2 linked regions of the Homo sapiens genome follow. The protein of the gene in region 1 interacts with the protein of each later gene in a pairwise test. Each region holds a gene or a part of one and is shown on either strand. Other genes may lie near its edges. The genes, in order: GADD45B and MAP3K4.

Region 1 (15,984 bases):
GCTAACTTGGGAAGACATTTAGGCTACAGTTTAAGTGATAGTAGACCTTGCACAAAACCCAACAGCTTTTGTCAAGCTAACCTGAGGCCTTCAGGTTGAGGGAGGAGGGGAGCCTGACATCTGTTAAGGTGCAAACGTTATTCTGGAGGTTATAAGATATGCAGCTTCCAGGCCAGGTGCGGCGGCTCACGCCTGTAATCCCAGCACTTTGGGAGGCCAAGGCGGGTGGATCACTTGAGGCCAGGAGTTCAAGACCAGCCTGGCCAACATGGTGCAACCCCATCTGTACTAAAAATACAAAAATTAACCAGGCTTGGTAGCCCATGCCTGTAGTCCCAAATACTTGGGAGGCTGAGGCAGGAGAATCGCTTGAACCTGGGAGGCAGAGGTTGCAGTGAGCCGAGATCTCACCACTGCACTCCAGCCTGGGCGACAAAGCGAAACTCAGCATGCAAAAAAACAAAAAAAAAACAAAAAAAAAACAAAAAAAAAGAGATGTGGTTCCCCCAATTACTCCTGCAAATAACACCATTATTGTAGTTTGGCCTTTTGAGATGTCTTTCCACGTGTTTTGCATGTCTGACACCCGTGGCTCCACCTGGACTGACAACCCTGCTCCTGAGGTTCCACACAGAAGCGATCTGGCCGGCAGGAGGACCCCTGCAACCTGCTGTGAGTCCATCTCTGCCCCCAACCAACCAGCAGCAAGCACCTGTTTACCTGGCCCACTCCCACTCCTTCCCACAAAACTGCCCTTGAAAAACCCCTAACCTAGGCTGGGCGTGGAGGCTCACGCCTGGAATCTCAGCACTTTGGGAGGCTGAGGTGAACGGATCACCTGAGGTTAGGAGTTCGAGACCAGCTTGGCCAACATGGTGAAACTCCATCTCCACCAAAAAAAAAAAAAAAAAAATTAGCTGGATGTGGTGGCGTGCACCTGTAATCCCAGCTATTCAGAAGGCTGAGGCGGGAGAACCTCCTGAACCCAGGAGGCAGAGGTTGCGAATTGCTTGAACCCAGGAGGCAGAGGTTGCAGTGAGCTGAGGTGGCGCCACTGCACCCCAGCCTTGGTGACAGAGCGAGACTCGTCGCAATAAAGAAAAACCTCTAACCTATGAGGTTTGAACAAGTTGATTTATGAATTCCATCTCCCACGTGGCGTGGCCAGCCTCATGTCTATTAAACTCTTTCTCTACTACAATGCTGTGGTCTCTTTCTCTTTCGTTGTTTCCTTTCTTTTCTTTTTTTTTTTTTTGAGACAGTCTCACCCTGTTGCCCAGGCTGGAGTGCAGTGGCTCAATCTCAGCTCACTGCAATCTCCGCCTCCCGGGTTCAAGCGATTCTCCTGCCTCAGCCTCCCGAATAGCTGGGATTACAGGCGCCCGCCACCACTATGCTCGGCTAATTTTGTATTTTTAGTAGAGACGGGGTTTCTCCATGTTGGCCAGGCTGGTCTCGAACTCCCGACCTCAGGTGATCTGCCCACCTCGGCCTCCCAAAGTGCTGGGATTACAGGTGTGAACCACCGCGCCCAGCCTCTATTTTTTTTTTTTTTTTAAGTAAAATACTTTGTTAGACTGGGGGTCTCCCTATGTTGCCCAGGCTGGTCTCAAACTCCTGGACTCAAGGAATCCTCCCACTTTGGCCTCCCAAAGTGCTGGGATTACAGGCGTGAGCCCCTGCACCCAGTCACGTGGTCTTTCTTTATGCAGTGGGCAGGAAGAACCCCTGCATAGCGGGGTGTGGTGGCCCATGCCTGCAATCCCAGCTATTTGGGAGGCTGAGATGGGAAGATTCCTTAAGTCAGGAGTTCAAGGCTGCAGTGAGCTGCGATGTCACTGCATTCAAGCCTGGGCAATAGAGCGAAGCCCATCTCTAAGAAAAAAAAAAAAAAAAAAATTAACCACCCTGGGGGATCACTGGAGCCAGGCCCGAAGCTGCCCACCATGCTAGCATTGTCTGCAATGCCTGCTGCCGGGGGTTCCAGCTGTTCCGATGTCTGTGAGCAAGTGTGTAAGTTGTAAAATACTCAGTGCAAGGCGAATGATTCCTGTCCATTGTGTAGCAAGAAATTTTGCCTCGACCAGAGAGAGATCTGGCTTTTGTTTCAGCCACTGGGAGGTGACTCTTAGGCCCCAGGAATGTCCTGCCTGATGGATATACCGTTCTGTTTTTTTTTTTTTTTTGAGACAGAGTCAGAGTCTCACTCTGTCTCCCAGGCTGGAGTGCAGTGGTGCGATCTCAGCTCACTGCAAGCTCCGTCTCCCGGGTTCAAGCGATTCTCGTGCCTCAGCCTCTCGGAGTAGCTGGGATTACAGGCGCCTTCCGCCACACCCAGCTAATTTTTGCATTTTTAGGAGAGAGGGGGTTTCACCATGTGGGCCAGGCTGGTCTCGAACTCCTGACCTCAAGTGATCCATTCGCCTTGGCCTCCCAAAGTGTTGGGATTACAGGTGTGAGTCACCGCGTCCGGCATTCGAGTGGCTTTCGAGGTCACTACAGTAGGGGAGGTGTACGGAGCACTTTCTATGCCAAGCCCATTCTAGGTCCTTGTTTTGGGTAAACATTTCCACAACCTGACTTTTCCCATGAAAAGAGGGAGTTTCAGGGAGGCTAAGCCACCAACCCAAGGACACACAGCTGATGACGGCTGCAGGTGGGATTTGAACCAGGCAAACGTGACCTCAGACAGAGCCTCTCCTTCTCCCTCTCTCTGCGAGGCATAGTCCCAGACCTGCCAGCCTCTTGCTGTGCACAGTTTCCCTGCCCCTCCCCTGCCACTGTCCTCAGAATTTCCCAAATGTGCCTCAGCCTTCGCCGTAGCCTCCGCTGCCACCTGGCGTGGTGATCCCACCTCCTCCCACCCCAGGCCTGTCTTACAAATGTCTGCAAGTTCAAATGATGACTCAGCTCCATCCCGAAACCTCTCCTTGGGGACAGGAGTCATGTCTTGCTCGTTTTGTTCATCTTTGCAGAAAAACATGATGTCAGAGCCCAGCCGCTGCCAATCACTTCCTGGCTACATCCGGAGTGACACGCAGACCCCTCCCCGCAGCCCCCAAAGCCCGTCTCTGTGAGCTCATCTTCCCGGCTCTCCCTCTTGCTTACTCTGTTCCACCCCCAGGGCCTCCTTGGGATTCCTCAAATGCAACAGGTGAGGTCCTGCGTCAGGGCCTTTTCAAACACTGTGCCTGCTGCCTGGGACCTCTGCCCCCAGAGCCCCTTGAACCTGACTTTTTACCGTTTTTTTTTTTTGAGACAGAGTCCTGCTCTGTTGTCCAGGTGGGGTGCAGTGGCATGATCTCGGCTCACTGCAATGTCTACCTCCCAGGCTCAAGTGAGTCTCCTGACTCGGCCTCCTGAGTAGCTGGGATTACAGGCATCTGCCACCACGCCTGGCCAACTTTTTGTATTTTTAGTAGAGACGGGGTTTCGCCATGTTGTCCGGGCTAGTCTCGAACTCCTGACCTCAAGTGATCTGCCCTCCTTGGCCTTCCAAAGTGCTGGGATCACAGGCATGAGCCACTGCACCCAGCCCGCCCCCACTTTTTTTTTTCTTTTTGAGGCAGGGCCTTGTTTTGTCGCCCAGGCTGGAGTGCAGTGGTGCGATCATAGCTCACTGCAGCCTCAAACTCCTGGGCTCAAGTGATCCTCCTGCTTTAGCCTCCCGAGTAGTTGGGACTACAGGTGTGCCCATCAGACCTGGCTAATTTTTAAAAAATTATTTGTGGCTGCGTGCGGTAGCTCACACCTGTAATCCCAGCACTTTGGGAACTCGAGGCGGGTGGATCATGAGGTCAGGAGTACGAAACCAACCTGGCCAAGATGTGAAACCCCATCTCTACTAAAAATTAGCCGGGCGCAGTGTAATCCCAGCTACTTGGGAGGCTGAGGCAGAAGAATCACTTGAACTCGGGAGGCAGAGGTTGCAGTGAGCTGAGATTGTGCCACTGCACTCCAGCCTGGGAGACAGAGAGAGACTTCGTCTCAAAAAAAAAAAAAAAAAAAAAGGCCAGGCGTGGTGGGTAACACCTGTAATCCCAGCATTTTGGGAGGCCGAGGTGGGCGGATCACGAGGTCAGGAGATCGAGACCATCCTGGCTAACACGGTGAAACCCCATCTCTACTAAAAATACAAACAATTAGCCGGGCGAGGTGGCGGGCGCCTGTAGTCCCAGCTACTCTGGAGGCTGAGGCAGGAGAATGGCGTGAACCTGGGAGGCGGAGCTTGCAGTAGCCGAGATCACACCACTGCACTCCTGGGTGACAGAGCCTGGGTGACAGAGCGAGACTCCGTCTCAAAAAAAAAATTATTTGTAGAGATGGGAGTCTTGCCAGGTTGCCCAGGCTGGTCTCGAACTCCTGAGCTCAAGCGATCCTCCCCACTTGGCCCCCAAGGGGCTGAGATTACAGGCATGAGTCTACCCTTAGAGACAGAGGCTGCACGAAGTCATGATCACACCACTGCACTCCAGCCTGGGCAATACAGGGAGACCTTGTCTCAAAAAAGAAAAAGAGAAAGGAACTAATCTCATTAGAAGACTCCACTCTCATGAGCTCATCTGACCCTAATCACTTCAAAGCCCCCCCGCAACACCGTGCCCAGCCTGCAGTACGTTTTTTTATTTTTTATTTTTATTTACTTATTTTTTTGAGATGGAGTCTTGCTCTGTCACCCAGGCTGGAGTGCAGTAGCGCGATCTCGGTTCACTGCAAGCTCCACCTCCTGGGTTCACACCATTCTCCTGCCTCAGCCTCCTGAGTAGCTGGCACTACAGGCGCCCGCCACCACGCCCGGCTAATTTTTTGTATTTTTAGTAGAGACAGGGTTTCACTGTGTTAGCTGGGATGGTCTCGATCTCCTGACCTCGTGATCTGCCCACCTCAGCCTCCCAAAGTGCTGGGATTACAGGCGTGAGCCACCACACCCGGCCACATTTTTTTTTTAACTCTGAATGAATGCAAAAACCTCTATGCTGGATAAAATTTTAAAAATTTATTTTGTTTAAAGCCAAATACGGTGACTCACGCCTGTAATTCCAACACTTTGGGAGGCCGAGGCAGGCAGATCATTTGAGGTCAGGAGTTCGAGATCAGCCTGGCCAACATGGCAAAACCCTGTCTCTACTAAAAATACAAAAAATTAGCTAGGTGTGGTGGAGGGCGCCTGTAGTCCTAGCTACTTGAGAAGCTGAGGCAGGAGAGTCACTTGAACCCAGGAGGTGGAGGTTGCAGTGAGCTGAGATTGCGCCACTGCACTCCAGTCTGGGTGACAGAGCGAGATTCTGTCTAAAAAAAAAAAAAAAAAAAAAGATTATGACAGGATTACTCATACTGATTATTCCTCTCACCTCAGGCTCCAAGATGGCCTCGGCGACACTGTTATTGATCTCATTTTTTATTTTATTTTATTTTTAGACACAGGGTCTCCCTCTGTTGCCCAGGCTGGAGTGCAGCGACACAATCATAGCTCACTGCAGCCTCAAACTCCCAGGCTCAAGTGATCCTCCCACCTCAGCCTCTCACGTAGCTGGGACTACAGGTGCGCACCACCACGGTCGGCTAATTTTTAAAATTTTTGTAGAGATGGGGTCTCCCTATGTTGCCCAGGCTGGTCTCAAACTCCTGGGCTCAAGCAATCCTCCTGCCTCGGCCTCCAAAAGTGCTGGGATTACAGAGGTGAGTTCTGGCGCCCAGCCCAAAGATAATAGCACACATTTCCTGAGTGCTTACCTGATTCTGGGAATTTCCTCCTTCAATGCCTGTGATGAAGCCTTTGTGTGACTGTTCCCATCTTACAGAGAAAGAAACTGAGGCTGGAGCTCATTTTCTTTTTTTTTTTTTTTTTGAGAAAGAGTCTCACTCTTGTTGTCCAGGCTGGAGTGCAGTGGCACGATCTCGGCTCATTGCAACCTCCACCTCCCGAGTTCAAGCGATTCTCCTGCCTCAGCCTCCTGAGTAGCTGGGACTACAGGCATGCGCCACCATGCCTGGCTAATTTTTATATTTTTAGTAGAGATGGAGTTTCACCATGCTGGCCAGGCTGGTCTTGAACTCCTGACCTCGGGTGATCCACCCGCCTCGGCCTCCCAACATGCTGGGATTACAGGCATGAGCCACCACGCCTGGCCCGGCTGGAGCTCATTTTCTGAGCTCAAAGGCACAGAGCTCAGAGTCTCTTGAAGATATTCCAAGATACTCCAGATATTCTAAGATGCCTGGAGCCAGGGCTGGAAAAAGGAGGCACAGGTGGGCTTGGGGTCTAGAAAGAGAAGCCTGGAGGGTGGAGGACCATGGGGGTCCAGGCAGTCAGTCTGGGAGAAAACAAGGCCAAGTCAGTGTTGACAGAGGAGTAGGGTTTTCCTGCTGAAGACCAGAGGAAGACAGCATCCCAGGCGGAGGAAACAGCTGACAAAGGCTGGGCCTCTCGCAGAGGAGGTTGTTATGGCTGGCACGGGGGACACACGGAAGAAGGACTTGGACACATATTCTCTGAGGCCCTGCTTTGCTCGCCTTATTTTATTTATTTTATTTGCTTTATTTTTGACACAGTGTCTCGCTCTGTCTCCCAGGCTGGAATGCAGTGGTGCAATCTCGGCTCACTGCAACCTCCACCTCCCGGGTTCAAGCGATTCTCCTGCCTCAGCCTCCCGAGTAGCTGGGATTATAGGCATGTGCCACCATGCCCAGGTAATTTTTGTATTTTTTGTAGAGACGGGGTTTCACCATGTTGGCCAGGTTGGTTTTGAACTCCTGACCCCAGATGATCCACCTGCCTCAGCCTCCCAAAGTGCTGGGATTACAGGCATGAGCCACCGTGCCCAGCCCTTATTTTATTTATTTATTTGAGACGGGGTCTCACTCTGTTGCCCAGGCTGGAATGCAACTGTGCAATCCCGGCTCACTGCAGCCAGGAACCCCTGGGCTCAAGTGATCCTCCTGTCTCAGCCTCCGGAGTAGCTGGGTGCACACAACACACCCCATTCTTTCTTTCTTTTTTTTTTTTTTAAAGACTGAGTCTCACTCTGTCACTCAGGCTGGAGTGCAGTGGCACGATCTCGGCTCACTGCAATCTCGGCTTACTGCAACCTCTGCCTCCCAAGTTCAAGCAATTCTCCTGCCTCAGCCCCCAGAGTAGCTGGGATTACAGGCATGTGCCACCACGCCCGACTGATTTTGTATTTTTAGTAGAGATGGGGTTTCTCCAGGTTGGTCAGGCTGGTCTTGAATTCCCAGCCTCAGGTGATCCTCCTGCCTCAGACTCCCCAAGTGCTGGGATTACAGGAGTGAGCTACCGTGCCCGGCCTTTTTGTTTGTTTGTTTGTTTGTTTGTTTGTTTTGGGGAGGATGGAGTCTCTCTCTGTCACCATGCCATGTGCAGTGGCATGATCTCGGCTCACTGCAACCTCCACCTCCTGGGTTCAAGTGATACTCCTGCCTCAGCCTCCTGAGTAAGCTGGGATTACAGGCGCGTGCCACCACGCCCAGCTAATTTTTGTGTTTTTAGTAGAGACAGGGTTTCACCATGTTGGTCAGGCTGGTCTCGAACTGACCTCACGATCTGCCCGCCTCAGCCTCCTAATGTGCTGGGATTACCCAGCCTGCAATACTTTTTAAAAATCAAAATCAATGCCCAAGTATCCATGAGGAACAAAATATCAAAATTGTAAATAAAGACAGAATCTGACTTTGCACTTATCCCACCCACCTCCCTGATCTTCCTTATCTTCAGCTCATGTTGGCCATGTTGGTCAGGTTGGTCTCGAACTCCTGACCTCAGTTGATCCGCCCGCCTCGGACTCCCAAAGTGCTGGGATTACAGGCGTAAGCCACCGCGCCCGGCCGATTTAACTTTTAAATTGAAATTATAAAATATAAATATGTATGTTGCATGCGTAAAACATTGCATAAAGTTACATAAAACGTTGCAACCGCCACGGTCCCCTTATCCCCCGCCTCCAGCCCAGTGCCCCGCCCGTCCGTCCCTCTCTTCCGGCGCTGAGGGCGCAGAAACTCGGCGCGGCCACCAGATGGCGCCACCGCGCCTCGCAGCCCCGGGACATTTCGTGCCCCAGCGGTGGGCGGCGCGGAGGAGGTGGGATGCGTCAGCCGGACCCGCGGGCCGGGGAGCCGGGCAACTGGGGAAAGTGAGCCGCCGGGCGGAGGCCAGACCCCAGGCTGGCGGGGGAGGGGACTCAGATGTGAGTCACCCGGGAGCCCCCAGTCGACCGTGGGAGACGTTGTCATGCGGGGCCTGCCAGCCTCGCTCCTGAACAGCCTTCCCGGGGCGGCGGAGTCCTGCAGGCGGCCGTGCCTGGCGCACACGCGTGGCTCCAACACGAACTAGCCTATGGCCTCACCAAGCCTCAGTTTCCCCTTTTGCATAATGCACATAAGCATCCCCCCTGCTTCCCAGGTCTTGGATTAAATCATCCATGAATCCGGAGGGGTGGGGGGTACCAGGTCCGCACCACGCACTCAATGCAGGTCAGCGCCCACCCCGGAGTGAGAAATAAAAGTAGCCGTCATCCTTGCACGTGGGCCCTGGGTGGCGGCGTGCAGCCGGAGCCTGCACCATTCCCCTCAACAATGGCTTTCTCCAGGGCCTGGAGGCCTCCGCACGGGCAAAGGCTGGAACGCCAGGCAGCCGGCGGGGGCGGGGCCGCGCCACCTGCACCTCCCACGCGCACCCCACCCTGATACTCGCGGGGTCGGCGAGGAGGCGCCCACTTTCTTCTCCAGAGCGCCCCGGGCTTTGCAACCTCCCACTTTCGGGGCCCTCGAGGAGGCCTCCCGCGACCACCAGGTGACAGCTGATGTGTATTGGGCTCTTACTGTCAGCCGTATTTTATGCCATGCTCTGCAAACCAGCGAGGCCGGCGCTGCAGACCCATTACTCAGACGGGAACAGAGAGGCCGGGAGAAGCGAAATCACCCAGGGGCTGGGGTCGTCGCAGCCAGGAGAGACTCCGGCCCTCACCACCACCTGGGCGAGATCACGCTGCAAACGGGGCCCCTTCCCGGTGCAGCCCCTCCACCCCCAGCAGAACTTGGGAAAGGCGCGGTCCGGGACTCTCCGCGGATCGGGAGGGGATTCCAGGCCCCCCCGAAAGTCCGGGCCGCCTCGCGCGCTGGAAATCCCGCGCGCGCCCCGAACCGCGGCTCGGCTGCCGGGAAATCAGGAGAAAAAAACTTCTGCTTTTTTTTCTTTTCTGGCATTCGCGGTCACCTACCCGGCCCCCGCGCGCCCTCCTCCCGGTTCTCGCCCCCACGTGGGGCGCCCCCGCACGCCGCTCCTCCCCCTCCCCTCCGTCGGCCAACCGCAGAGCTAGCTGCACTCGCCCTTGTCTTTCCACCAATAGGAGGGGCGAATGACTCCACTGAGGCCACGCCCAATGTTCAAGTCTATAAAAGTCGGTGCCGGAGGCTCCCAGCTCAGATCGCCGAAGCGTCGGACTACCGTTGGTTTCCGCAACTTCCTGGATTATCCTCGCCAAGGACTTTGCAATATATTTTTCCGCCTTTTCTGGAAGGATTTCGCTGCTTCCCGAAGGTCTTGGACGAGCGCTCTAGCTCTGTGGGAAGGTTTTGGGCTCTCTGGCTCGGATTTTGCAATTTCTCCCTGGGGACTGCCGTGGAGCCGCATCCACTGTGGATTATAATTGCAACATGACGCTGGAAGAGCTCGTGGCGTGCGACAACGCGGCGCAGAAGTAAGTAGCCGGGGCTGCCGCCGCCTGAGGTCAGCCGGGACGGGATGGGTCGGGTTGGGCCGGGCCGGGAGCGGAACGTAGCACCCGGTGGTCCGCCCGTCACTGATCCCTCTTTCCTGGTCTCAGGATGCAGACGGTGACCGCCGCGGTGGAGGAGCTTTTGGTGGCCGCTCAGCGCCAGGATCGCCTCACAGTGGGGGTGTACGAGTCGGCCAAGTTGATGAATGTGTGAGTCAGACCCCCTTCCCGGGCTGGGCGCGGGTGGGACGGGACCTCCCCTCCGCTCTGGACGCTTTCCGCACGCTTGTCTTGCATGGAGCTGGGACTTCCCCAAGTGCCCCCCGCTGTGGATGCAGAGCTTCTCTGCCGTTTTGTGGATCGGGGGCTGCCGTATCCTGATGTATCGTCTGCAAACACCCCTCCCGCCGTGGGCCTGTCTCCCCCTACCCCATACTTTGAACCGTGTGCCCTCCCCTCCCCCCACCGTCACCAGCTTGCAGAGGCAATCCCCTGCACCCTTGCAGTTTCTCTTTTGCTCTTGCACGCTCCTTTTTTGCAAACTCCCCCTGCACGGTGGCCCCTCCCCTGTCCCCGGCTGACCCATCCCTACCCTTTGGCCCCCTCAGGGACCCAGACAGCGTGGTCCTCTGCCTCTTGGCCATTGACGAGGAGGAGGAGGATGACATCGCCCTGCAAATCCACTTCACGCTCATCCAGTCCTTCTGCTGTGACAACGACATCAACATCGTGCGGGTGTCGGGCATGCAGCGCCTGGCGCAGCTCCTGGGAGAGCCGGCCGAGACCCAGGGCACCACCGAGGCCCGAGACCTGCATTGTCTCCTGGTCACGGTGAGTCGGGCCTCTGCCCTGCCCCGCCACGCCCGGGCACCTGGGCCGGTGTTTGTCAACAAAGTCGGGCTGACTGGTCCTGCACAGCTCAGCGCTCAGCCACGTTTGGCATGTCCCGTGGGCAGCCGGGCTGGGGCCTCCTCACCCAGGAAGCTATTTTGAGCCTGACTGTTTTCCCCACACAGGGGCCCCGGGAGAGGGAGGCTCCACTAAACCCCTTCTTTTCCCTCCTACAGAACCCTCACACGGACGCCTGGAAGAGCCACGGCTTGGTGGAGGTGGCCAGCTACTGCGAAGAAAGCCGGGGCAACAACCAGTGGGTCCCCTACATCTCTCTTCAGGAACGCTGAGGCCCTTCCCAGCAGCAGAATCTGTTGAGTTGCTGCCACAAACAAAAAATACAATAAATATTTGAACCCCCTCCCCCCCAGCACAACCCCCCCAAAACAACCCAACCCACGAGGACCATCGGGGGCAGAGTCGTTGGAGACTGAAGAGGAAGAGGAGGAGGAGAAGGGGAGTGAGCGGCCGCCCCCAGGGCGGAGATCCAGGAGCTGGCGGCCGCCGATCCGATGGAGAAGGGGGGACCCAGGCCAGCAGGAGACAGGACCCCCGAAGCTGAGGCCTTGGGATGGAGCAGAAGCCGGAGTGGCGGGGCACGCTGCCGCCTTCCCCATCACGGAGGGTCCAGACTGTCCACTCGGGGGTGGAGTGAGACTGACTGCAAGCCCCACCCTCCTTGAGACTGGAGCTGGCGTCTGCATACGAGAGACTTGGTTGAACTTGGTTGGTCCTTGTCTGCACCCTCGACAAGACCACACTTTGGGACTTGGGAGCTGGGGCTGAAGTTGCTCTGTACCCATGAACTCCCAGTTTGCGAATTATAGAGACAATCTATTTTGTTACTTGCACTTGTTATTCGAACCACTGAGAGCGAGATGGGAAGCATAGATATCTATATTTTTATTTCTACTATGAGGGCCTTGTAATAAATTTCTAAAGCCTCTGGTTGCTTGTATGTTTTCGGCTTCTAGAACAACTAGGACCCCTGCCCCCTCCCCGGGGACACGCTTCACCCCCCACAACCCCCGCCAGCTCACCAGGAAGTGTTACTTAAGCCCCTGTTAGCAGCTCCAGGCTCCCGTGCAGAAACAGTACCCCTTCTCTCCGCAGCAGGCGCCGCCACCGACTCCAACAAATCTATGCCTCTTTTTTTTTTTCCTTCTCCTCCTACCCTGCAGCAATTAAGAGACCGGTTTATTACGAAACCTGGCCGCCGTGCCACCACTGTTACTGGCTGTGCAGGAGCCAACCCCAAGCTCTGGGCACATATGGAGGCATTTCAGCGGGAGGGGGTGCTGGCTGCAGCCCCTGACCGCCTAGGCGGCCACCGCAGCCCAAGGTCCGGATCGGTCAAGGGGGCACCTGGTACCACACAGCGAGGTGAGCTCAGGGCTTGCAAGGAAGAGCGCTTTTGGAGGCTTCCCCAGGGAGTGCCCCCCCAGCCCACCACAGCCTTCTCCATCCCAGGATAGGCCTCTCTTTTGCACTAAAGAAAAAAACTTTTTTTATTTCCGCAAACTAAAATCAACAAGCAGAAAAATACCCCAGGAAGTCGGCCTCCGGGCCAGCCGGGCTTGGCGCAGTGCTGCGTTTTGCCTGTAAACCGAAACTGCGAGCCCTGGCCAGCCACCTCCTACTTCTCCCAAAGTTGCAGGCGCGGTGGTGACTCCCCCTGCCCCGGGCTGGGAGCGTGGCCCAGCCCTTCCGTGCCCGGCCTCAGTCTTCCCGCCCCGGGTCTGCAGAGTGGGCCCGCCCTGGCCAGGCGCCGGGACGACCTCGGTTCCCCTCTGCCCTGCAGCCCCCAAGCCTGGGAACTAGGGGGGAGTGGGGAGGGGGTGGGGTGGTCCTGCCCGCAGGCCGCGACCTTTCCACGGAGCCTCACGTGGGCGCATGAGGAAAACCCCAGCGGCTCCCTAGGAGTCACGGGGATCGGGGGAGCCCCGACGGGGGAGGGAGAGAGAGAAGGAGGGGGAAGTCCCAGAGGGAGAAGCGGGGAGGGGAGAGGATCCCGCCTGGGGCTAGGAGGAGGGGAGAACTGAAGTGGGGAGAGGGGAGCCCAAGAAGGGGAAGGGGAATCCCCCACAGCCCTGAACCAACAGGGAAACCCCGGGAGGGGGGTAGACAGGTAGGAGTCCCGAAGGGGTTGGGGGAGGGGAGAATGGAGGCGAAGAGGCGGGAGCCCCGAGGGGGTAGGGGGTGATGGAGTGGGGATCCCTGAGATGGAGCCCAAGAGGGGAGGGCACCTGGGAAGAGTGACAGAGGGCGAGGGGCTCTTGAGGGATTGGGGTGCGGGAGAACATGTGGGGCCAAAACCCAAGGGGGCTCCAGGTGGGGAAGGACCAGGTGGGGCAAGGGTGCGCCTAGCGGCGGCCTGGAAAAGCTCTGGCTTTTCTTTTTCTTTCTTTTGAGACAGTCTCACTCCATCGCCCAGGCTGGAGTGCAGTGGCACGATCTCGCCTCCCTGCAGCCTCCACCTCCTGGGTTCAAGCGATTCTCCTGAGTAGCTGGGACCACAAGGACCCACTACCACACCCACTAGTTTTTGTATTTTTAGTAGAGATGGGGTTTCACCATGTTGGCCAGACTGGTCTCAAACTCCTGACCTCACGCCCGACTTGGCCTGCAAAATGCTGAGATTACAGGTCTGAGCCACCGCTCCCAGTCTCTGGCTCTTCGTTGGTCAACCTCGTAGGGTAGGGAGGCGAGGCCAGCTCGGAGGGCTATGCCCCCGGGGATCGGATGGTCTGTCTCCATCCGGATTGTTCCATTCTTGCTCCTCGGTCTCTAGAACTGTGCAGCAGGATCTCAGGCTCCTGAGCCCCAAGTGGAGACAGGGCATGGAGGGGCCCCAGTGGTGGGACCCTCAGCCAGGACCTTCACCTGTCTGTGCCTCAGTTTCTCCCTCTGAAAAATGGGGGATAATGCTACCTAGCTCATAGATTGTTGAGGAGGTTAAATGATATATAGATTCCTGGGCCGGCCCTGTGGCTCACTCTCTGTAATCCCAAGACTTTGGGAGGCTTGGGGGAGGTGGGGAGGAATCCCTGAACCCAGGAGTTTGAGACCAGCATGGGCAAACATAGAGAGATCCAGATCTCTACAAAAAAATTTAAAAATTAGCTGGGCATGGTGGTGTGGGCCTGTGGTCCCAGCTACTTGGGAGCCTGAGGCGGGAGGAGCACTTGAGCCCTGAAGATTGAGGCTGCAGTGAGCTGTGATGGCACCACCACACTCCAGCCTGGGTGACAGAGTGAGACCCTGTCTCAAAACAAACAAACAAACAAACAACAGACCCTGAAATATAGATTCCTTGACCGGCTTCCTTCAATGTACTTCCAGAATCATGGTTTTTTTTCCCCAATTTTTAAAAGATCATTCATTTAAAAATTTTAGATTTAGCTGGGCGTGGTGGCTTATGCCTGTTATGGTTTGAATTGTCTTCCCCACAAAAGATGTGGAAGGCTGGGCGCAGTGGCTCACGCCTGTAATCCCAGGACTGTGGGAGGCCGAGGTGGGCGGATCATGTGAGGTCAAGAGTTCGAGACCAGCCTGGCCAAGAGGGTGAAACCCTGTCTCTACTAAAAATACGAAAGTTAGCTGGGTGTGGTGGCGTGCACCTGTAGTCCCAGCTACTCGGGAGGCTGAGGCAGGAGAATGGCGTGAACCCGGGAGGCGGAGCTTGCAGTGAGCTGAGATTGCGCCACTGCACTCCAGCCTGGGCGACAGAGAGAGACTCCATCTCAAAAAAAAGAAAAAAAAGAAAAGAAATAGGGTCTCACTATATTACCCAGTCTGGTCTCAAATTCCTGGCCTTAAGTGATCCTCCAGCCACGGCCTCCCACAGTGTTGGGATTACAGGCGGGAGCCACCGCGCCCGGCCCTCTCCTATTGTTAGTACTCTTGCAGTTGTTATTGTTGTTGTCATTTATGAAAGTATTCCACGGTCTCCCTGACCGAAGCCAGGGAAGTACAGGAACTGGCTTTGAAGGATGCTGTTTCATTGAATTAATAATAGCAGCTAGGTTGATTCAGTCTTCTCTGGGACTCAACTGTAAACACCTATAAACTTACTGTGGCCCCGTGAGGAAGATGCTGTTGTCCCATCTTCCCAAAGAAGAGACTGAGGCTCAGAATGGAGGAGCCACAGCCTGGCTAGGAGTCTTGAATTGTCGGTGTCTGGCTGGTCAGTCTCTGGGGAAAACTCTGGGTTGAGAGGACCCGGGGGATGCAACACCCCCAGCTCCCCAGACCCCTTCAAGTTCACGCTGGGTCAGGAAGGAGTAGTCACAGGGCACCAAGCCTCAGTCAGCTGGCACGGGCCGTTCTGGGCTCCCACACTCAGGACTGGATGCCAGGATACATGTGTGTATTCCTTGGACGACGGTGAGTGGAAGAGTTGGCAGTGCCCACCGCAGGTTGCAGGCAGACACGCTTCCCAGGCCGGACTCGTGAAGTTGGGTGCGTGCTCACCCCAGGGTGCCCACGATGGCCTGTGTCTGAACCTACACTCACAGGCTGAAACGCATACACACGCTCACACCCCGCTATGCAGTCATATTCACAGCTGGAGACATGGACATGTTCACACGCACGCACACACATACTGCATGCCACGGACACAGAGTCGCCTGCAAGAGGACACATGAGTCCATAGAAATGCCTCCCATGGCCGGGTGTGGTGGCTCACACCTGTAACCCCAGTACTTTGGGAGGCCAAGGAGGGTGGATCATCTGAGGTCAGGAGTTTGAGACCAGCCTGGCCAACATGGTGCAACCCTGTCTCTACTAAAAATACAAAAAAATTAGCCAGGCGTGGTGGTGGATGTCTGTAATCCCAACTACTTGGGAGGCTGAGACAGAAGAATCGCTTGAACCCAGGAGGTGGAGGTTGCAGTGAGCTGAGATTGTGCCACTGCACTCCAGCCTGGGTGAGAGAGAGAGACTCCATCTCTCAGATGATCCACCTGCCTCAGCCTCCCAAAGTTCTGGGATTACAGGTGTGAACCACTTCACTCGGCCTTATTTTTTAATTTTTTTTCCTTTGAGACAGGGTCTCACTCAGTTGTCCAGGCTGGAATGCAGTGCTGCGATCTTGGCTCACTGTAACCTCTGCCTCCTCAGCTCAAACGATCCTCCCACCTCAGCCTCCTGAGTAGCTGGGGTTACAGACGTGTGCCACCACGCCCAGCCATTGTTGTTTTTTGAGACAGTGTCTCCCTCTGTCATCCAGGCTGAAGTGCAGTGATGTGGTCATAGCTCGCTGCAGCCTCAACCTGCTGGGCTCCAGTGATCCTCCTGCCTTGGCCTCCCAAAATGGTGGGAGCCACACGCCCAGCCACTATCTGCTTTTTATAGAAAG
Region 2 (16,189 bases), on another chromosome or scaffold:
GATCACGCCACTGCACTCCAGCCTGGGCAACAGAGCAAGACTCCATCTCAAAATAAAAAAATTTTTTTTAAATAATCCTGTGGCAAAATCCATAAAATTGACTAATATACTAGCCTTGAAATATGCTAAGGTGTTACAATTATGCCCTTTACATTTATGTACATATATATATATACACACTATATAGAGAGGAAATTTGAGACTTCATAATAGTGGTAGCATATGTCCAAGGTTTTTGAGTGTTTTTGGCAAAGCAGAAAGAACATGCATATGAATATGTAACTGGTTTTGTGTATGTCAAAAATGGGCTTTAAACTCATGGTAAGCAATGTTCTGAATGTTACGTAGCTCAACCTAGACTAGGTCTTCAGTAGAACCTTAGCTTTTTAAACTCATTTCAAAGTAAAGAAATTCCATAAGGGCTATGTGGATTCGGTCTTGAGGACAAAGAGTGAAAGGTAATTCTCTGAAGATTTTGTTGTCATTGTTTTTAACATGATTAGGCTGGGTGCAGTGGCTTACACCTATAATCCCAGGGTTCTGGGAGACTTGAGGCCAGGAGTTCAAGACTAGCTTGGGCAACATAGTGAGGCCTCAGCTCTACCAAAAAAAAAAAAAAAATGTTTAAAATTAGCTGGACATGGTGGTATGCATCTGTAGTCCCAGCTACAGCAGAGGCTGAGGTGGGAGGATCACTTGAGCCCAGGAAGACCCTGTCTCCAAAATAAAAAAAGAACATTATTAAAGGTAATGAGACAATGAGACCAACCATGTGCTAAACAAGAATAAAAATTTAGAGACAAAAATCTAATAACTTAAAAAAAATAACTATTTCATTAATGCAACAATACTTACTGAGTTCTACTAACACCATGTTGGGCACCAGAGACATTTGATCCCTAGGCAAAGGTCAGAAGAAGGAAGAACAGCTTCTTTCCTGAAGGAGCTTACACTATGGTGGAGAAGGCAGAAAAGAAATCTGGGGGCTGTGAGGCGCTCACTGGGAGCCCTGAAGACAAAGTGGGGGCACGGGGTGAGATGAGAGGGTTGTCAGCCAGAGAAACAGCTTTCCTGGACCCAGCATGGGGGTGGGGCGAAAAGTCACAACACTTATATTGAATATTTAGTACCAGTTAACTTAGGTTTCTATACATGATGCATTACTTGATTAGGTAAGTGTAAATTTACTTGGTTCCTGCTAAAATACATAGTATCCTCAAGTGGAAATTAAAACACAAGAACAAGCCACAGGTCTCCCGCATGCTGATTATATTTGCTAAGTGTTTTGTGACTTGGACACACGTGTCTGCATTATCAGCTAGCTTAAATTCGGTAGTCATACCAAAGAATACGTAGTACAATGCTGTTTAAAGAAGAGATTTATTTTATTATTTAACTTTTAAAGTCTCTAATATGCCTTCTAAGAAGGGTTCTGGCTCAGAAAATTGCAGAAGAAAATCGAGTAGAGAACTAGAATTACAGAAACCTAAGAAATACTTTTACTGAGCTTTCTTCACACAAGAAAATGCACGGAAATGAATTATACATGGATACCAATTTGTGATTTTTAAAAATTTGTAATTTTTTAAATTAAGATAAAAATTAGTTTATTTTTTTGAATACTTTTTTGTTTTGTTTTACCTCACCCTTTACTAAGCTGTTAGCTTGGTCTGTTGCGCTTACTGCTATATCCTCAGCATCTAGTACAGTTCCTGACACATATATGCACTTAATAAGTATTTGTCAAATGAATATTATTGAGTAAATAAGATGAAGGTCAATTCAGAAATTCAGCACTATCAGGCTATATACATAATACAGACTATTATAAAAAACTAGAATGGAGCAGTTCCTTTTAACGACGGAGAAATGTCAGTAACATACTTTGAGCACAATATAGCTAATTTCACAACTGGTCTTTAAATATAACATACCTATAATCAATTTAATGTTTTTCTTTGTTACCAGAGTTGTTCAAAACGTGCGTTTCACCTATCAAAGCTCAACTAAATGAGGTTTAAGAAATCTGCACATTTGAATGTACTTAATTTTAAAAGATTCTGGTTTTGGATTAACTCTGGATTTCACCCTATGGGAAATTTTGTAAATATTTCCAACTTAAAAAAAAACTGTGAAGCCCCAGCGCTAAGAGTAAACGATGCATTGGAATTTCAACAGGATTTCTGTAACTCTGAAATAATCTTTAGCATTTCTTCTTCCCCCCATCCCCTCAGTGTAGGAGCATTCCAGTCCAAGTTTCTGGGAGATCGCTATCGAATCTTATGACACTGGGGTGAGAAGTTTTGCCGGGTTGAAATGAGGGGGTCACTTTAATAATCTGGAATTCCGGAGACTTTATGTCAAGTCTTAAAAATTCGAGCCTGTGGAAGGCTGCGCTGTCAAGAGACCGGAGTTGCGAGCGTCTGGGTGACGTCCGTCCTCCTGGAAGGTGGGATCCGGGTGGCAGGTCCCTGGGCGGCGACTCCGGCCGGGCTCATAGCGTCGCGCCCGCCCCGCTCATCGGCCCTACCCAGCGTCCCTCCCAGACCGACGACCGCCTGGGAAGCCTCGAGCTCCCAGCCCGCTGCACAGCCCGGCTCCGCTCCACAGTCCCCCACTGCCACCGGCCGGGGCGACACCGGGCGAGCTGGCGAGACCCGGCTCCAGGACCGAATCGCGCCGACACTTGACGGCGCTCCCCGCCCCTCCCTGCCGCCGTCTCCGCCCCCGTCCGGTCGCATTCCGGCGCCCGCCGCCGCCGCCGCCACCGCCGCCGATCTGGGAGGCTTGTCCCTCGCCGCCCACCGTAGCCCCGGCGCTCGGCCGGTCGCCGTTTCCAAGATGGCCGCGGCGCGCACGGCTCCTGCGGCGGGGTAGAGGCGGAGGCGGAGTCGAGTCACTCCCGCACTTCGGGGCTCCGGTGCCCCGCGCCAGGCTGCAGCTTACTGCCCGCCGCGGCCATGCGGGGCTCCGTGCACGGATGAGAGAAGCCGCTGCCGCGCTGGTCCCTCCTCCCGCCTTTGCCGTCACGCCTGCCGCCGCCATGGAGGAGCCGCCGCCACCGCCGCCGCCGCCACCACCGCCACCGGAACCCGAGACCGAGTCAGAACCCGAGTGCTGCTTGGCGGCGAGGTGAGTGTGGCGGCCGCAGTCGGTCGCTCGCAGAAAGCGGGGCGGGTCCTGGCCCGAACTCGGTCGGGCCCGAGGGCCTCTGCTTCCCGCCAGGTGGGGAGGGAAGCATCCAGTCTCTGCAGGCTGGGGCGGGAGGGGCGCGGTGCATCCCTGGGTCCCAGGGGACCGCGTCTGAGTCTGTCCGGCGACTCCTCCCGGGGTTGCAGCTCCGCAGGGTTCCGCTCGAGCGTGTTGCCGGCTCCCCTTCCCTTGTAGACTCCCCCAGCTCACCCTCAACGTTGCGGGGGCTGGGAGCAGAGTGCGGCTGCCTCCCCTGCCGCTAGCTTCGGAAGAGTGGCCTCACTGAAGTGCCTCTCATCATTACTGAACGAAAGTGGTCCCTCCCCTCTGCCCTCATTCGAGTAAAAGAGACATTCGGAAATCGAGTGCGTACTGGCTATTTCCCCGCGTTCTCCTCCTCCTCTCCTTTTGCCCGCTCCAGAGAATGCCTGTCATCTCTTCCGTGAGAAATTGCACTTAGACTATGCAGACAGATACGTTGCTTTCCTGTTCTGAGGGCCCCTTACTGTCCTTTAGTGCTAGTATTGTGCAGATTGTTGCTCACACGTGCACAAAAGTAAGGATTCATTTGTCTAAAACTTTGCTACTGCAGGAAGCTCTAAGGTGGAACTTCGGTAACCAAAGCATTTGTTGCTTTTTCTTCCATACTCTATTAACTTATTTTTATGTCTTTATTTTTTTTTTAATTGAGAGAACAAACTCACCATAACTGAGAATTTCCCTCTTTTTACGTGCCTATGTTTGTATGTTCAAATGTCCTCTTACTCCCTGTCCTTTGCATCCCAGAGTAAACTTGCAAACTGCTGCCCCCTGTCCCCTGTAATGAAAATACCTCGGCAGCTCCTCTTGGCATCTTATGGTCTTGCTCTATGGTTCTAGGAATAAGGCAGTAAAGTGTCCTCTTTTTCCTGCTTAAAGAAAATTCACACCTGTAACTGTAGTTAGAACTGAACACAGGAGCCATATTCTTGCTTGTCATCATTCAGTTGGCCCAAACAAATTTGTTTTATTTTTATAAGCTGTGAAGAAATTAGTTGCCTCTTTTAATTCTGAGATAGTTCTGGGTACTTCTAAGGAACAACTTCTCTGAATAATGGTACAGGGTGTAATGAGAATTCCTTTGGTTCCTTTTGAATACATCTAGTATTTTTAGAAATTTTGTCAGAAAGTTTATTATAAATTTGTTAACGGATCAGTTTTCGAGCAATTTTGATACCTTTTTCTTTAAAATTAATAGTGAACACTTAACGGTTAAAATAGGCCATTGTCTTTATTTCTATTAACCCATTTAATCTTTTCAACAACTCTATGAGGTAGGTCCTGTTATACTCTCTTTTTGACAGATGAGGAAACTGAGGCACACAGTTTAAGTATCTTGTCCAGGGTTTCACAGCTGGTAATGAAGAAAGGTCTGGCTGCACAGCCCATGTCTTTAACCACCATGAAGAATTCATTATCCAAATGGGCGGATCAGAAATTAGAATTCTGTATAACCCTACTCCGGAAAGAAATGGACATGAGCATTCTTAGGTAAAAGCGAGAAGGGCAGAGAAATGAAAATGTGCTGCAAAAATGACTGCTGCTTCAGTGGTAAAAAAAAAAAAAAACTTGACTTTTCAGTCAGGCTTCTGTCTGTGTTATAATAAAAATAGGTCAGGATAATGGGTTTCATCCAACTGTAAGTGAACAGCAGTGTACGGAACAAGAAGATCTCAATATTTTTCTTAGCAACATTGCAGTTAATTTTACAATAGAAAAATCTGTAAAACAGATTACTTGACAAAGCTGTTGTTTTCTCTTTTTTATGTCCTCGTTGTCACCACCTGCTCTTCAATACATAGAACTGACCTCTGACAGAATTACTGTAGATCTTTGGTAAAAGATGTAGGGGGTCTATCCAGTTGTTCATTTGAACTTTTTTTTTTAACCATTTTAGAGGAGCTCAGTGTACGTGTTCAAAATGTGTGAAATGCCACCTCTTTTTTTTTTTTACAATTTTCTTTTTTATTTTATTTTCAATAGTTTTTGGGGTACAGGTGTTTTTTGGTTACATGGATAAGTTCTGTAGTGGTGATTTCTAAGATTTTGGTGCACCTGTCACCCAAGCAATGTACACTGTACCAAATATGTAGTCTATTCCTCACCCCGCTCTGAGCCTTCCCCCGAGTCTTCAAAGTCCATTATATCATTCTTACGCCTTTGCATCCTCCTAGCTTAGCTCTCACTTATAAGTGAATACGATGTTTGGTTTTCCATTCCTGAGTGACTTCACTTAGAGTAATGGCCTCCAGCTCCATCCAAGTTGCTGCAGTTGCCATTATTTCGTTGTTTCATGGCTGAGTAGTAGTCCATGGTGTATATATGCCACATTTTCTTTATCCACTCATTGGTTGATGGGCATTTAGGTTGGTTCCATATTTTTGCAGTTGTGAATTGCGAATTGCTGCTATAAACGTGTGTACATGTGTCTTTTTCATATGATTAGTTGTTTTCCTTTGGGTAGATACTCAGTAGTGGGATTGCTGGATCAAATGGTAGTTCTACTTTTAGTTTTTAGGTTTTTTTAGTTTTTTTTGAGACAGAGTCTTTCTCTGTTGCCCAGGCTGGAGTGCAGTGGCGTGATCTCAGCTCGCTGCAACCTCTGCCTCCCGAGTTCGAGCAATTCTCCTGCCTCAGCCTCCCGGGTAGCTGGGATTATAGGTGCCTGCCACCAGGTCCAGCTCATTTTTGTATTTTTAGTAGAGACAAGGTTTCACCAAGTTGGTCAGGCTTGTCTTGAACTCCTGACCTCGTGATCCGCCCATCTTGGCCTCCCAAAGTGTTGGGATTACAGGCGTGAGCCACTGCGCCTGGCCAGTTTTTTAAGGAATCTCCATATTGTTTTCCACAGTAGTTGTACTAGTTTACATTCCCACCAGCAGTGTATAAGAGTTCCCTTCTCACCACATCCATGCCATTGTCTATTTTTTTAATTATTATTTTTAAATTATGGCCATTCTTGCAGGAGTAAGGTGGTATCTCATTGTGGTTTTAATTTGCATTTCCCTGATAATTAGTGATGTTGAGCATTTTTTCTTATGTTTGTTGAAAATGTGTGAAATGCCACCTTTTAATACATTGGAAACCAATAATGTGATAATTTATGCTACCAGGTTAACTGGTTTTGCCACAGACTAGAATAAAACTCTGTTTGCCATCTTTGTCACATACTTTATGTCTGTGTGTCATTGATTAGGAAGGTTGTGTTAATGCACAGGCCTTTTGTAGAATTCAGGCCTGTACATGTTGGCCTCCAAAGCTGTGCAGCAAGTGTGCCATCGTGGCAGGTGCAGCCAGCCCAGCACATCTGCCTAGTGTGTGCTTTCCTCCTGACCCAAGAGTGTTATGCAGTGACCCAGCAACACAAAACAGGCAGAGAGGTCATAGTACTCTATTCCAGTTTTATTGCTTGCTGTCAGTTGTGGATACTTTTGTCCTTATTTTTGATAAAGAATTCATGATAAGGATAGCTGTTGTTATTGTTAGTGATTAAATTTTGAAATAAACATTGCTTATCATTTCTTTTTCAAGCTTCTGGGGCAGTTTTAGGAGGATCCTGAGGTGACTAGGAGAGCTATTAAAACTAATTTGGAACAATTTACCTTTGTGACTTATTGGATCTGTACACCTAAAACACAGAATAAATTGGATATTAAGGCTGATATAATGCTCTTGTTTACTATAACCTTTCATTTAAAATATTTATATTAAAAATAGCCTCATTGTTCTCATTGTCCTTATGAGTACATGCTGCATAAATTTAACAATTAACTTTTTTTAAAAAATGAATTATTTACTTTATATATTTATTGTAAATTCATTTGAAAAACTGGATTTCCTACTAAAAAACTAGTTGAATGTCGTCACTCCTAGGCAATTTGCTCTGCCTCTCGGCTTGAATGTCCACCTTGAGCCTGTGTGTTTCAGTCTTGACCTTGTATGTCAACTGTTCTCCCTGGCAAAGTCAGCCTCCTGTGGTGCTCCAGACTGTTGGTGTAGCATCAGTGATGGTCATGCCTTTACACCACTGTAACAGTAGATGCCATTGGCGGGGGTGGCGTTAGGCAGAGAGGAGTCACCAAACAGCAGTGATGGCAGAAACTTCATGTTTTCAACTGGGGACTTGTCACTTAGGAGGACTTTGTAGTTCCCTTTAATTTTCTGTCATTGTTAGAGGCCACTCTGTTTCCTTCATGTATGCTCTCATGGTGTCCTGCAAATCTTGTTCTGAGCTCTGCTGAAATACGGGGATATAAAGGTCTTGCCTGCTCACTGGATACATTTGTTGTAATAACTTCCTGTTATTTAATAATTCCTCATTCCTCATGACTATGATTTTACTCATAGCATTCTATTGTCTCAGCCTTGTCATTTGACCAGGTAGTATGTATGCTGTTTGAAGACTCTTTAACGTTGCCTATCAGTAGGCTACTGGTAGTGGTTTCTTTAAAGAGAAAATGGAAAACGTGAGAGAAGGAGATTAGCTGAAGACTCCGTAGGTCTTCATAAGCTGGCACTCCCTTGGCACGATAATCAAGGCCCAGACACTCACTGTGCTTGGCTTCTCAGGCACAGATACTCAGCTTTGTCTGTACACCTGGTTAGTCAGTGTATTCTCTTGCTTGTAGAAAGCCAAAGTATAATTAAGAGATTGATTAGTAAGCATGATATTAGCAAGGGAAATGAGTTGAATGATCCCGGTGACTCATGTTAGCAGACCAGTGAGGTGGGCTTGCATCCCTAGCAGGTGCACCCCTGCTTCTGAATGAGAGGCAGTGTGATCCAGACTTACTCTTAGGTTTTTATTTTCTAGGCATCACACAGGCTGCTTTTTTCCCTTGTGTCACAAACTTTCCTAAATTGTTTGGGTTATAGTATGTTTGTTTTAATCTTCAGTCTTTATAACAAACCTTGCTTTTCCTGCTTTAATTTGGGAGTATATTTTATCCTTCTCACTTTAAGATTTCTTTTTTTAAACCTCAGTGGTACGGTACATTTTTACTAATGGTGAGTCTCAGAGGATCACCTTATTGTCTCCATCCCCCACCCAGTATTCTCCCCATAATCTCTGTCCCACCACCCCTCGCCAAGAATCCTTTAGCATAGTTTCTCAGAACAATGTGGCAAAGATGTCAGTGGTTGGTGCTTTCATAAAATTCTTTTTGAATATTGTGTTCAAAAAGGATCATGATGGTATCTGGCTTTTCTGGATTTAAGTCATAAAATTAAATTTTAAAAAATCAGAACCACATCAGAATTCTATCCAGTTATTAAAAACTGTTTTTAAATAGTGTTTAGTGACATGTGAAGATGCTCATGATACAACTCCTTTTGGGGTGGTACCTGAGTAGCTCTTCTTAAGAAGATTCTCAAGTATTTCTGATGTATACATACTCACCGCTGTGTTCAGCAAGAACAAACAGACTATGAAACAGAATTTGCAGAAGATGGGAGCCAAAATTTGAGGTAGTTTTTCATCTCATACACATATTTGTCCACCGGCTGTGTCTGCCCTACTTCACTGTCTTCCTTCTACCTTATTTGGGGGAATTCCTCTCTTGACTCAAACTACATGGTACATATTGGAGCTGCCCTCTTCTTACAGATGCCAGGCCATAGGCATGACACTTGACCCAGTCCAGGCCAATTAGGATTCTTTCCTGGGATTTTTCAAATTGGAGCTGGGAGAGAGAAACGCGCATTTTACTGAAGTATAGGCTGAGAATTCATGAGCCTAGAGCTAGCTTCCTGAAGCTCCTACAGAGGACCTGGTCTCAGAGAGTGATGTTAATCCCCAGAGAAAAGCAGAGAGGCTGAAAGAGGTCTATGGCCAGTTGCCTTTAAAATAAATAAATAAATAAAAATAAATAAAGAGATGGCAGTCTCTGTATGTTACCCAGGCTGGATTCAAACTTCTGGTCTCAAAGAATTCTTTTGCCTTGGCCTCCCAAGTAGGTGGTACTACAGGTGCGCACCACCACACTGTCAGCCAGTTGCCCTTTTGTGCTAGATTTGTCCCTATTTTTCTCCTGATTTGATGTGAGCTAATCTCTATTTGTGCTTAAACTATTAATTTGAGTTAAACTTCTTAAAACCCTAATACTCAGTGTGATCGCATTTTAAAAAGTATGTGCATAGAAAAAAGATATAAAAAATACATACTAATTTTTCCTAAAACTTTTTATGATGAACGTGTTACACATTTTATTTTAAAATAAAAAGCTAATCAGAGAGCCTAAATTCTTAACTAGCTCATTTATAATTTTAAGTTTCTTTACGTTGAATTGTTACTAAAATTGAAATTGATGAGAGTCCATGTGATATAAAGAGAATATTGTTGCCAAATTTTAAATGATTTTATTTATTTTTGGTATCTGAGCTGGCTTATCTGAGCTGGCTGTAGCAAGCTGCTTTTAAAAAACTATTTACTTCAGCTTGGGTAATAGAGTATGTAGATTAGAAACAACTCCAACAGTAACAAAACAAACACAGGACTTACATTAGGGTGGTCTTTTACATTAATAGAAATATTTAAAATCTAGAACTGTGTTCTCAACATGTATATTGTGTTTAAATGCTTTCCCCATTTTAAGCGGTGTACTTGAAATGTCTATATTTTAAAAGATACATTATTCCACTGGCAGTGAGTATGGTAGGTGCATTTTTAGACCCCTGCAGATCTCACACTGTGTAATCGAGTGCCTTTGCCTTTAAATATTTATTCACTAGCAGGCAACATGAAGTTTTGTTTTTGAATTACAAGAACGTTCATGTTTTGCAATTTGCAGACCTACCTCAGCAGTATTGGTTTCATGGGTCATATGGATGCCACGTGTTTATAAATTAGCAGGGAAAGCTATTAAGAATATATTAGGCAGTCTATCAAAAGCATTTCATACATGGATTTCATTTCAGACAAAATAAGCCTTCTGTGGAGAAAAGTAGATACTAAGCTTTAAAGCTGATCAGATTTGATGTTTTCAGTGGAAGCTTTTTTGTGTGTGAGCAGGCTATTTGAAGATACTGCTGAAATGTAGAACTTTCTGAATAGGGCTTGTTAGAGGACAGCTAGTTTAGAGTTGTCAAATTAATAGAAATTGTCAACCTTTTTAGTGTTTCAGTGGGGAACTTTTGGACGATAGTACATTTATTTTATTTAAAATCCTAAAGTCTTTTTATATGGGAACATAAAAATGTAGATATAACTTGGTTTTCTCACACAATTTTTGGAGTTAGTTAGTTGTATCTGTTAAGTATTTAGTTCTTACTCAGATAAGGATTTAAACATTTGCTAATACAAGTTCTTACAGATGGTAGGACGCTTAGTGTTCATTTCATCCAACTTCCTAGCCATTGCTTATAGAATTACAAGAGTTGAGCTCTTATAAGATCATTTGGGCTGTGCGTCTCGTTTTAGAGATGAGAAAAATGGCCTAGAGGGGCTGCAGCTTTCCCAGCTGACAGCTTAGGCTCCAGATCTGCAAGCCCTTCTTCCCTTACCCTCGCATCGCCATGTGCTCCCCTGGTCAAGGTCCAAAGCCAAGGTGTTCTCCAGCCACCTGCCATACATAGCCCAGCTTAAGCCCATGTGCACAGTTACTTGGCAACCGTGAAATGCTGTATTTTCTGGATGAATTGGACTCAACAGGATCAAACGAGATGAAAGATTTGTTTTTAGAAAAAAATGCAAATAGAAAATATGAAATCCTCTTAAAACTCATCATCCACAACGTTTTTCCCCCGTGAAACTTTTATTTCTTGCTCGCAGAATAAAGAAGAGCCAATGCTCAGAAATTTTCAGATACGTTGTTATTTTCAGGCGTCGGTCTGTACATCAAGAAGACAGTAAGATTCTAACTTCTGGTCTGTAGTAGTGGTTTTGAAACTGTGTTTATGGTCGTGACCTACAGTAAGAAATATATTTTATGACAGTGTGTGTGTGCCTTATAACCAAAAGAAAACAATTTTGAAACAGTATTTGACCTTGCAATATATGATACTCAAATAATTCTTATTCTGTTCTATTAAAAATTGTTCATCATAACCTACTAAATTGATTTTATTACCCACAAATAGGTTGTGACCCTCAGTTTTAAAAGCATAGCTCTACCCAAAATAAAATGGATGCTGTTATACTTTGTACCTTGTCCCTTGAGACTGAGTCAGGAGAACAAGTACACTATTTGTCTACTAAATGATCAAATGGAATTTTGAAGAAGCTCGGCAATACTTACTTCTTGAAGACAGCATTGTTACCCGAAGGCAAGAGTAAGAATGTATCTATGCTTGTCTCTCAAGGTTGTTCTCTTGGCTGCTTATCCTTAAACTACAAGAATTGTAAAGATCAGTTTAAAATCTAGGATTAATTTTAGAGTAAAATTGGGATTGGCATTATGTGAATAATTTAGGTAATTTGTTGATCTTTCTCTGAAACAGTAACCTGTGTTTAAAATTTTTCACATAGAGCAGTCCTTAAGAAAAGAAAGGAACTCATTTTCCCCTGATATATATACACACATATATGTGTACACCATATATACACACACATACACACACATATATGTGTACACCCATCTGTATACACACATATGTGTACACCCATATATACACACATGTGTACACCCATATATACACACATGTGTATGCACACATACACATGTGTACGCACATATACACATGTGTACACATACATATATGTATATTATACTATACATATATGTACACACACATATATAGTGTATAATATGCATATATATGCACACATAGTGCATATTATATATAATATACACATATGTATATAATATATATTATATATTATAATATACACATATGTATATAATATATATTATATATTATAATATACACATATGTATATAATATATATTATATATTATAATATACACATATGTATATAATATATAATATATATTATATACACATATATAATACAAGTGTATATAAGTATATATGTATATACATATATATGTGTACACATATATAAGAAATCCAAATCCAAATACTGAAAAATTTACAAAAAATATTTACAAAAATATTTTTATCAAGTTATTAATTATAGGTGGAATCATGTATGTCTCAAGCTATGTGTTATAAATGTTATCAAATAATTCAAACAATATATTTCACATCTATATATTCTGTATATGCATGATATATATGTCATATGTAATCTATGTTAGGGTACAGCAGTTTCACTTTAGGTCTTAAGCATTGCTTACTTTAGGGTCCACCTTGACATTTCCCCCGCTTCCCCCCAGAATAGATGAGATCCTTCTGTTATGTGTCCTCAGAGCCCCTGCAGTTTGCCACCATTTGTAATTATATATTTGTGTACATATTTGTTTATTATGTTTGCCTTCAGTAAACTCCATGAGGGCTGGGGCATCGTCTGTTGTTTTGCTTACTTTTATTGCCTAATTCCTGGCTCGTTGCCTAACAGCAGGTTCTTTGCTGACACTTGTATGAAGGAGGCAGAGCATAGGTTTTGGTAGTAGATAGGCTTTGAATGTTACCTTTTGATTGCTAGCAGTAGGATTGTGGGGAAGTAATTTAGCCTCTCTCAGTCTGTTTCCGCATTTGAAAGGCAAAAATAATAACATCTTCCTAGGTTGTTATTAAGATTAAGTAATTCCTGTTCTATAGTAAGTGCTCAGTATTAGCTGTTTTATTACATTTCTCTTTCTTCCTCTTTTTGGGCTTAAGGTAAAAGAGGCAAATCCTATAGTGATTTTCTTAAAAAGCCACCAAATATGCATTGAGGCTGGATACTTTTAAAAATAGCTGCAATAATCTCCATTCAAGAAACATTTCCCCCCCAACGTCTGCAGAAGCCATAGAAATAAGAAAAAGGTTTTTTTTTTTTTTTTTTTTTGGATCTAGCTTTTCCAGATTCTCTCTCTTACTTTAGTTGTGGTTTATTCTGCATATTATTCCTACAGGTGTTTGGAATTCTGGCTGGCCCTTGGATCATCATAAATCATGCTGCTAAATTAAGAACTGTAACGCTACTGATTGTGATTGTTTAGGTTAATAGGCACAGCTGTCTTTTTCTGTGGAAATTCTTTTTAGTTCATTTAACTTGTGTCTTTATAACTTGGATTAATTTTCTTTTCATTTTTTAAATGTTATACACTGTAAGAGGAATAGTTTTCAAATTGATCTAGCCACTGCCTAAGAAAAATGAATGAAATCTTTTCACGTAATAAAACTAGATTGATCTAGCTACTGCCTGAGAAAAGTGAGTGAAATCTTCTCGCTTAATAAAAGTAACTTAATCAGTTAGAAATTTTCCTGATTATAAAGGTAACCTGTATCTATTATGGAAAACTATGAATCATATAAAGAAGAAAATGACCAATTCTAATTCTGCCATCTAAAAATAGTTTTGGCTTTTTTTTTTTTTTTTTTTTGAGATGGAGTCTCGCTCTGTCACCCAGGCTGGAGTGCAGTGGTGCAGTCTTGGGTCACTGCAAGCTCCGCCTCCTGGGTTCATGCCATTCTCCTGCCTCAGCCTCCTGAGTAGCTGGGACTACAGGCGCCTGCCACCATGCCCGGCTAATTTTTTGTATTTTTAGTGGAGATGGAGTTTCACCATGTTAGCCATGATGGTCTCGATCTTCTGACCTTGTGATCCACCCGCCTCAGCCTCCCAAAGTGCTGGGATTACAGGCGTGAGCTCCCGCACCCGGCCGGCATATTTCTTTTCTGTGTATTTTTTTTATACAGTTTATTTTTACAAGCTGCCATATCATGAGCATTTTCCTATGACAGACAATGGCAAACTGTATTCCTCTAGATGTATATCCCATAATTTAATAGTTTGAATTTGATAACATGATATAACATATGGTTTGTGACATATGATTCCACTTACAATTAGTGACTTGATACAAATATTTTTGTGAATTTTTCACTATTTTGGATTGTTTCTTTAGGATAGCTTCCTAGGTCATAAGATATTTAGAGTTTTAAGGCTTTTGAGAGGTGTTGCTATGTTTCTTTCTAGAAAGGTATTAAGTTATTCATACCAGTGTGAAAGACAAAATGCACTGGATAATTTTATTTACAAAAGCATATTCTAAATTGTAATGAGGTATAGATCGCTTAAGAGGAAAGGGCTCCTTATATATTCAGAAAATAAAACATTAATAACAGCAACAATATTCTCAACAGAATCCACGGTCATCCTTGATTAGTTCATTCAGTCCTGTGTAATTCTTTTTCCACTTGATCTTTAGTTAGCAGTCTCATGAATTTATCTTCTTCTTGATTAGAGTTCTAGAAATCCTGAGTCAGTCCACTGGTATCTTCTCAAAGTTGTTTAAACATTACATCAGAAGACTGTACTGCAAGGTACCTGGCATAGTCCTTTTCCTTGGGTCCCAAGACAGCTCTTCTTTGTTGAAGACAGGCACTGTGGCCTGTAGCTGATTGTAAGTGCTGTCAGGGAAGCAGCAAGGTAGAACGAAAACCTATCTGTAAATGACAAAATAACTTAAAGTGGCTGTGGTTAACTTATTACTATAATTTTCAAAAGTGAAAGATCCAATGAGATTTCATTATAAGAATAAAGCAATTAATAAGGATATTTGGTTGTTTCTTTGTTGTACAAGACAAGATTAAAGTCATTCCAAAATTTTTTTAAACAAAATATTCATATAAACATAAGGATTCTATTTTCAAGAAAGAGTGGCTATTCCATTTTTATAAATTAGATGGAATATCCACTCTTTCTTGAAAATAAGAGTTAATCTTTACTGGGAAATAAAAGTATATAAATATAATTACTGAGAAAAAGAAGTTTAGATATAACATATGATAGTTCTGATATATGCCAACAATATACCAAGCATATAGTTAAAATATACCAAGAATATCAGAGAAAGAGATTCTGTAAGTCCGGAATATGTCCTGAACATCTATCTGTGCTTATTAATGAAACATCATAGGTAAGTAATGTGAATATCCAGTTGAAAACCACTGGCCTGGAAGATACTAGATTCAAATTAAGTTGGGACCAAGTCAACATTTAAAAACAAAGCTGAAATTATGACCCATAATGCTGTGTTGTCTAATATCGAACAAAGTAGCACCAGGACTCTGATAAATAGCAGTGTATCATTGTCAGTGAGAGCACTGACAATTTTCTGTTAACTTCTATAGCAAGCAGAGTCTGAAATATTTACAACATTTTACCTATACACATTTAACCTAGAGAAGGCTAAGCATTTCTTCTGACTTGACAACTCATCAATAACAACATGACAGATAAACCTAATTATTTTCTAGCACTTCTTTTTTTAAAAGGTGAAAGAACAAATCTTTGTGATTGTTTCGGGGACCACCATCTGGGAAATCTCAAAGACAGTTTTAGGTGCAAATGATATTTATGATTTGATTTTGGTAAGGTAAAATATTAAAAGTTGCCAGGAGATTTGAAAACTTCAATTAAGATAGGATCGTGGGTTACCAAGAAATAATAGATGACTTTATATTTAACCCAAGTGACAATAAATATTTTGAAAGTAAACATAAGTGGTAACATGATCGTCAAGAAACTTTCCTGAAGGAGAAACTTGTTCCTTAAATAATCAAGGACATAATAAGTTGGCAGAAACCATAGGTTTTCATAGTAAAACAGAGAATCTTGCTGTTTGTGCAGATAATGTAGAAAAGTAAAGAATAACTTTTACAGTCTATTAAGAGCAAACCAGTAATCTGATAAACATTTGACGTTGAAACAGAGAAAACACGATTTTAGTTTTGTATCAGTATAACATTTGATACTAAAGGTCTTTTTAAAAACCTTATTTAAAACCACCAAACTTATCCAGTCTTGACCATGACAAATAAAATTCCCTTTCCATGAACCTTCTACAACTTTCTGTATTCAAAATGAACACATTCATTAATGGACTCAAGACACAAAAGTATATAAACT

Evidence for each region.
Region 2: the proteins of GADD45B (region 1) and MAP3K4 interact in binary tests that used the Homo sapiens proteins (3 or more experiments, as listed by UniProt).

What each region holds. Positions count from the first base shown.
Region 1 is NC_000019.10:2,466,690-2,482,673, forward strand, and holds GADD45B (growth arrest and DNA damage-inducible protein GADD45 beta), read left to right. Parts: upstream 1-9,437; 5' UTR 9,438-9,669; coding exon 9,670-9,713; intron 9,714-9,839; coding exon 9,840-9,941; intron 9,942-10,339; coding exon 10,340-10,562; intron 10,563-10,798; coding exon 10,799-10,912; 3' UTR 10,913-11,568; downstream 11,569-15,984.
Region 2 is NC_000006.12:160,988,952-161,005,140, forward strand, and holds the start of MAP3K4 (mitogen-activated protein kinase kinase kinase 4), read left to right. Parts: upstream 1-2,817; 5' UTR 2,818-2,980; coding exon 2,981-3,132; exon of another isoform or gene 3,133-3,391; intron 3,392-16,189. UniProt on the Homo sapiens protein: Component of a protein kinase signal transduction cascade. Activates the CSBP2, P38 and JNK MAPK pathways, but not the ERK pathway. Specifically phosphorylates and activates MAP2K4 and MAP2K6.